2 linked regions of the Homo sapiens genome follow. The protein of the gene in region 1 interacts with the protein of each later gene in a biochemical or structural test. Each region holds a gene or a part of one and is shown in the gene's direction. Other genes may lie near its edges.

Evidence for each region.
Region 2: the proteins of RAP1A (region 1) and ELOA form a complex in vitro, tested with the Homo sapiens proteins (one study listed by BioGRID).

The regions. Positions count from the first base shown.
Region 1 is NC_000001.11:111,692,789-111,696,288, forward strand, and holds part of RAP1A (ras-related protein Rap-1A precursor), read left to right. Parts: intron 1-2,552; coding exon 2,553-2,621; intron 2,622-3,500. UniProt on the Homo sapiens protein: Counteracts the mitogenic function of Ras, at least partly because it can interact with Ras GAPs and RAF in a competitive manner. Together with ITGB1BP1, regulates KRIT1 localization to microtubules and membranes.
Region 2 is NC_000001.11:23,746,168-23,750,202, forward strand, and holds part of ELOA (elongin-A), read left to right. Parts: intron 1-2,853; coding exon 2,854-2,910; intron 2,911-3,674; coding exon 3,675-3,781; intron 3,782-4,035. UniProt on the Homo sapiens protein: SIII, also known as elongin, is a general transcription elongation factor that increases the RNA polymerase II transcription elongation past template-encoded arresting sites.

The DNA.
Region 1 (3,500 bases):
GCTGAGGGTAGATACCTGTAAAATCATAGAGTATCTCTTCAAGGTTAAATAAGCTATGAATAACATCAGTTACTTTCTTGGGAGTAGGATTGGATAGCTGGGAACAAGGGTGGTAGATAAGCTTAGTTATCACTGCATAGCCTTTTGTGCCTTTTTGAATTTAGTCCTATGTCCATGAATTACCTTTTCAAAAATAATTTTGGAAAAAGTCCATAGGAGTGAAAGAGGTCTAGGGAGATACTAGAGAGAGAAGAGCAGAGCCCAGGACTGAGCTCTGAGTACCTCTCAACCTTTAGAAAGTAGATAGGATTGGAGGATCTAGCATAGAAGAAGGTGTCTTTACTTGATTCCTCAAAAGTCAAGTAAAAAAGAGGAAAGAGATGATCAGAGAGCATAGAGGCAGTTGGACATGATAAAGGAAGCAGCTTTAGTCAGGTCATGTTGCCATAACCATAATGGGGTGGGTTGAAGATTAAATGAGAGCTGAGGAAATGGAATATAGACATTTGAAGAAGCTTGATTATGAGAGGGGACAGAGAATGGGGGCAGAAGCTGGAGAGATATTGGGGTTAAGGGAGGTTTTTGTTTTTGTTTTAGAATTGGAGATAGTAAAGCATATTTGTATGCTGGGGGCAATTCCTCTCCACTGGAGAGGAAAATAAGGATACAGGAGAGGGAAAGAGGAGATGATCCAGTACAAAAACCTGAGGAATAAAATTATAATCTATGTGAATGAATGAATGAGATGTCCCTGAAAATTAAGACAGAGGATAAGATTCAGAGGAGTAGTCAAACATTACTTTTAGTAAGAAAGAAATGAGAAACGTTGGATTGTTTTGCATTTTTGCAAGTCTTATTAATGTCTGGCTTATAGAAGGCACATGGGCTCTTTTGCCTGCTTCTGTATCCAGTCTCTTTCAATAGCACATGTTCTATACCCTTTGGAAGATTCCACTGTAAACTTATGAGAGAAGAAGAAGAGTACCTCTTAGAATACATCTTAGTATTGTTAGGAAGATAGTTTGACCTTAGGGAGCCTCTGCCTTGGACCATATTTTGAGACTCTCTGCTCTAGCCTAAAGCATATTAGGAAGCTGTATTAGACTGCCTTTTTTTTTTTTTTAAATCTTGAATCAGCATCTTGCCCTGGAGTGCAGTGGCGTGATCATGGCTCACTGCATCTTCAACCTCCTACACTTAAGCAATCCTCCCACCTTAGCTACCCAAGTAGCTGGGACTACAGGTGCATGCCACCACACCTGGTTAAATTTTTAAATTTTTTGTAGAGACAGTCTCACTATGTTGCCCAGGTTGGTTTCAAATTCCTGAGCTCAAGCAATCCTCCTGCCTTGGCCTCCTAAAGTGCTAGGAGTACAGCATGAGCCACTGCATCCAGCGTAGACTGCTTTGTATATTTAAATTATGTGTCGTACTTAGAAGATGAGGTGATTAAATCCTTGATAAAAATCATGATTAAGGTTTTTGGTGTGATTATATCTTGAGTTGCCTTTGAATAATAGAAGCTTAGTAGGAGAAAGAAGTTTGTTTACTATATTTGAGTTAATCTCTTTAGCTCAAGCTAAAATAGTATATCAAATATTCCTCTGAGTAATTTAAGTGTAGATGACCTCAGTCCACATTCTTACCCTTGCTTTTTAGGCAATAATGTACCAGACCCTGTTTTAAAGTTACCTAGGAAATATCTTAAAACCGTCTTCTGTACTTTTTTCACTTACTGAATGATAAATACGTATTTTCTAGTATGTGCTTTTGGATGCCTTTAAAAGTTGATAATATCTGAAAAAGATGAATGGGCAATATTTTCCAATGGAAAAAGTAAGGCTTTGGAATCAGGAAGATGTATGTTTGAATCTCAGCTGGCAAATAGGAAGAATAACTATTTCTGGGACAAATGTGAAATTTGAATGTGGTTATAAATTAAAAGTGACTAGCTTAATGTCTGGAACATAATAGACATTCAGTAAGTTTAAATTTCCCTTTCTCTTTTCCACCACAATTTAGAAAGGCTTTAACAAATTTACAAGATGCTGCTTGAGGTCCAGCTACCTGGGAGGCTGAGGCGGGAGGATCTCTTGAGTTCAGGAGTTCAAGGCCAGCCCAGGCAACATAGCAAAGACCCTGTGTTTAAAAAAAAATTAGAACCTTTGTCACTCCATTAAGGGCAGAGGGCATGGGATAAAAGTTACTATAGATATATAAAGGGGCAATAGGAGTTTAAATATTGATAATTTTTCATGTTTTAATTAGTTCAGATATGTTATTTGTATCCTTGTATATTAAGACTTAATGTAATTAACAGTGTATTATCAGTATTGATGACAGTTTTTAACATGACTACCTCCTTTCATAATAAATGTACTCTTAGTTATGGATGTATCCTTATATTGAAAGAATTAATAATATACTTTACATTTACGTGTTTACCCAGAATTTTCACATAATTTCAATTAATCATTATAATTTGTAGGTTAAGTAACATTCAAAGGAGTTTTCCTTTAATTTTTTAATATTTCTCTTTTTTTTTCCCCCAGACAGTTCAGTTTGTTCAGGGAATTTTTGTTGAAAAATATGACCCAACGATAGAAGATTCCTACAGAAAGGTAAAATGTGAAACTTGTACACACATGCTTACAAGTAGTTCCTTATGATGTTAAAATTTGATCTGTAGATTTGCTTTTTGAAAATAGTTTTGAGAAATAATACAAATATTGTGCATCTGTTTTTAAAAGTTTCATCAAGACAGAACATTTCTTAACAGAATACTACTTTGATATTCAGAGCTCTATGTTCTGTTACTGATTAGTGACTTGTTCCTTAATGTGGACATTTTCCTGGTGGGGAATGTTGCCACATATGAAAAAATTGCATATAAATAGTAGGTGTGTTTTCAACTTACTCTTTTGTTACCAACAATTAAGACCACCTTTATGCTTGAAGTTATCCAGTGACTGAACATTTTTATTTTTGTTTAGTTTTATAAGTTTAAAGATATCTTTAGACTACCAAAAAATTAGAGTCTGTGTAATACTATAATTGGGTTATATGCCATACATTTGTCAAAACCCATAGAATGTACCATGCCAAAAGAAAATCCTAATGTAAACTGTGGACTCTTGGTGATAACGATGTGTTCATGTGGGTTCATCAGTTGTAACAAATGTACCACTCTGGTGCAGGATGTTGATGGTGGGGTGAGGCTATGCATTTGTGGTGGCAAGGAGTATGTGGGAAATCTCTGCACCTTCCCCTCAGTTTTGCTGTGAAACTAAAACTGCTCTAATAAAGTCTATTTAAAAGGGAAAAAAAATTAGGTACTTGGTCTTGACAAAAAATATTCTGTAGAAGACCAGCCAGAGTTGTGGAAAATTTTCAGTATTTTCTATGTCAAATATATTGGGTGGGGTGGAGGTTATAAAAGGCTAGTAGCCAAGAATATTTTTTAAAAAGATTAAACTTTAATAGGAAAGGATTGCTTTTGA
Region 2 (4,035 bases), about 88 Mb from region 1:
AATCCCAGCTGCTCGGGAGGCTGAGGCAGGAGAACACTCGAACCCGGGAGGCAGAGGTTGCAGCGAGCTGAGATCGCGCCATTGCACTCCAGCCTGGGCAACAAGAGCGAAACTCCGTCTCAAAAAAAAAAAAACAAAAAAAACACACACACACAGTTGGCCGGGCGCAGTGGCTCACGCTTGTAATCACAGCACTTTGGGAGGCCAAGAGGGGCGGATCATCTGAGGTCAAGAGTTCGAGACCAGCCTGGCCAACATGATGAAACCCCATCTCTACTAAAAATAAAAAAATTAGTTGGTCATGGTGGTGGTGCCTGTAATCCCAGCTACTCGGGAGGCTGAGACAGGAGAATCTCTTGAACCCAGGAGGCGGAGGTTGCAGTGAGCCGAGATGGCACCATTGCACTCCAGCCTGGACAACAAGAGCAAAACTCCATCTCCAAAAAAAAAAAAAAAAAAAAAAAGGATCCTCGTCCTGTGTTACATTTTCACTGTGAAAGCTACCAAGAACATTTTGATGGCAGGTGACATTAAAAATATTTTTTGCTTTTTTGGGTTGAAGGATTGTACAGGGGACAACTGAGATGCCTCAACATGTACCTTGCAAATGTTTGATATTTCTCAGTTGCCTGTTACCAGTTCTTACAAGCTCTATAGTTGGTATCTTGTTTGATAACAGCAAGTTTCGATCCACCTGAGGATGCCCAATGTGCCTTTGCCTTGTTATTGCTTTGTTCTTTCTTGAAATTTACTGAAAATAGAGGGGTTGTGAAGTCCTTTTTTCTCTTGTGTTAGACTAAATGAGTCTGAAAATCTTGAGGGTTTTAGTTTTGTCTGCTTTTAAATCACCCCTAATAACCCAAAGTAAAGCAGAAAGACAGGATTTGTTCTTCCAGTTAGTGCTAGGCTTTGAGATAAACACACCCACAGTGACTTCCAGCCTCATCCTTATATGTTGGCTTTGTAGAGGTCCTGGGACACCTTTGTTCCCTTGGTGACCTCCTTTACTATGTGGGTTCTGAACTGTCTAATGACATCACAGGAGGAGTTTTTCTGCTTTCTTGCAAGTATGCTAAGAAGTATATGTGCTGCCGCTCTATTTTCATTTCCTAAGGACAGTGTTCTGATGTTGGATGCTTCTCCTGGCTTTACTTAACTGTAGTAGACACATTTGACTTTCCAGCTTGTTAAGCAAGTTACCTAACCTGATTGGGTTCAGTTGCAATATCTGTCAAATGGGGAGAATAACATCCACTTTATAGAGTTGGTTAGTGGGAATGAAATGAGGTAACGTGTAAGAGCTTAGTGTAGTAGCTGACACACAATAGATGGTATGTGAATATTCCCAACCTACCCCTTCCAAGGAATGGCATTATGAGAGAACCACTTGTTTTTGACCTTTTCAGTGATTTAAAATTTTCCTTTAAGTGAAGGAATTGGCATTAGTCTTTGCACCCATAGCTTGGGTGGCAAGAAACACAAAATTTTTCCTGAGTTGGATGATGGTGGTGATAGGATTTGAAGTGGGGGATAATTTTCACTCATCTATGAAGGTGAGACTCCCTAGATATGCCACTTGGCCTCTTACTTGATCTCAAGATTATCACTTGTGATCCAATTGCTCTGTCTGGTGACCATGTTAAGTAATGATTGAAGTAGAATGACCAGAAAAACAGACTTGTTACTCCACCTAATAGCAATATGGCATACCAATTATAGTCTGGGCCACACATGGTAAAAGCAGATCTTGTTATATAATATTTAAATGCAAAGGTAACCACAGTTATCTATTTTAAACTACTTGTATTTTGAAGCACTCCTTGTATGGTAAGTATGTTTAGATACACGTAGACATTTCCTAGAGAAAGGTTTGGCCAGTCATAACTTTTGTTAGAGCAAGTAGGAATTGGCTGAGGAATATCTGGTTGAAGATCAAGGGCAGAACGCTGAAAGCTGTCAGTCGATGAATGAAATGATAAGTATTTAGTGAGCTTTCATAGTGTTCTAGACACTATGACTAAGGACTGCACATGGTTTGTCTCTGAATCCTCATAGTTTGTGAAGTAGAGACAGGACCAAGTTCCTATTTTGCAGATGAAGTAACTGAAGTTTGGGGAGGTTTTTGACTTATTCAAGATCACTCATCGAGTGACAAAGCCAGATTGTCAAGCCTGTCTCTGACTCCAGAACTCCATCTTAACAGCTCTGCTGTACTGATTTTGACCTAGTTTTAGGAACTATAGGAAGGAAATGTGATCAAACCCAGATCACTTTTCTAATCTACCCAGGCATTTTGTGTCCACCGTTAACATCCAAGCTCTGATTCTGGCAACTTGAAATTACTCTTGGCTTTACACTTATGTAGAAGAAAACAATTCTGTTAAACACTGTGGCCCTTCTGGAAACATGATGGTCTTTTCCTGTAGAGGCCTTTTCTTCCTTTTACTTCCTCTGTGCCAGGTCCATGGGTAATTCCCCTAAAATTGGTACCTTTCTCATAAATTCTATCAAAACTAGGGCAAAAATGATAGTTGTTGATGGCTTTTATCAGAGTTGGTAAGTTTTGATTCTCTTCTCTACATCTTATTTCCCCTTGGTGTAGCACAGTGGTTGAAAGCAGGGAATCTAAAGCCACAGACCTGAGTGAATCTTGCCCCACTTGCATCTTGGGACAAGAAACATAACTTTTATGAGCCTATTTTCATACTTGTAAAATAGGGATATTACTTACTACTGTAAATAGGCATAATACTTATACTCATTACTGTAAATGGTTAGCACTAAGCACTTAATAATCAGATATTCTTGTTAAAGTGAATTTGACTATTGAAATTAATGTTTTCTTCTCTGCAGCTATTGAAATATTTGAAGAAACTCTCCACCCTGCCTATTACAGTAGACATTCTTGCGGTAAGAACTGTGTGACTTTAAATATTATATAATGATATCCCATTCCCTTCTCACTGGAGAGTGTGTAGAATAAGGTTACAAGTATGGGCTTTGGAAGTGAAAGAAACCAGACACAAAAGGCCATATATTGTCTGATTCCATTTATATGAAATGTCCAGAATAGGCAAATCCATAGACAGAAAGTAGATTAGTGGTTGCCAGGGGCTAGGAGAATTGGGAGGAACAGGATTTCTTTTTAGGGTAATGTAAATGTTCTGGAATTAGATGGTTATAATGGTTATATAATATTGTGAATGTTCTGGAAACCACTGAATTATGTACTTTAGTTAAAGTGGTGAATATTGTTAAATGACTTTATTTCAAAATTAGAATTAAAAGAACATTGACTTTGGCATCAATTAGTCCCAGATTCAAATCTGAGTTCTATGACTTTAGGCTGTTCCTATGTAAAATGGGTCTGATTCCTGCTTCACAGGGTTATTGTAAAGACTGATTCAGAACTGTATGCAAAGCTCTTATCTTAGTGCCTAACACCTGCCCTAATCACTCTTGTTATTAAAGTTCTGAACTTGGTACGCTTTGCTACTGTGTGTCATTAGAGATTTGGGGCATAGACACAAAGTAATTTAGTGTTAAGATTTGCAGGGTATGTTGTAGGAAGGAAGTATTGCTTGTTGAGTTTCTCAAAGTAGAAAGCCTTATTTCTTTAGAAAAACGTTAGCCTAGTTCCAGACCCCTCTAACAATTACTTTGTCAAATTTTAGGAGACTGGGGTTGGGAAAACAGTAAATAGCTTGCGAAAACACGAGCATGTTGGAAGCTTTGCCAGGGACCTAGTGGCCCAGTGGAAGAAGCTGGTTCCTGTGGAACGGTAAGAACATTTCTCTTTAGGTTTGTTCAATTTCATGGTTAAATTTACAGATAGAAAAGGTTTTCTTTATTATTTCTCTTTTGCCTTCTGAAATTGTTTTGCCTCAATTATAAAAAATAATCCATGATCATTGTAGAATATTAGAAAATATTAAAAATAGAAATCAAAATTTCCTATTTCTATCACGCAAAGACAAACGTTATGAACATTTTGGTACGTTTCTTTTTTTTTTTTTTTTTTTTTTTGAGACAGAG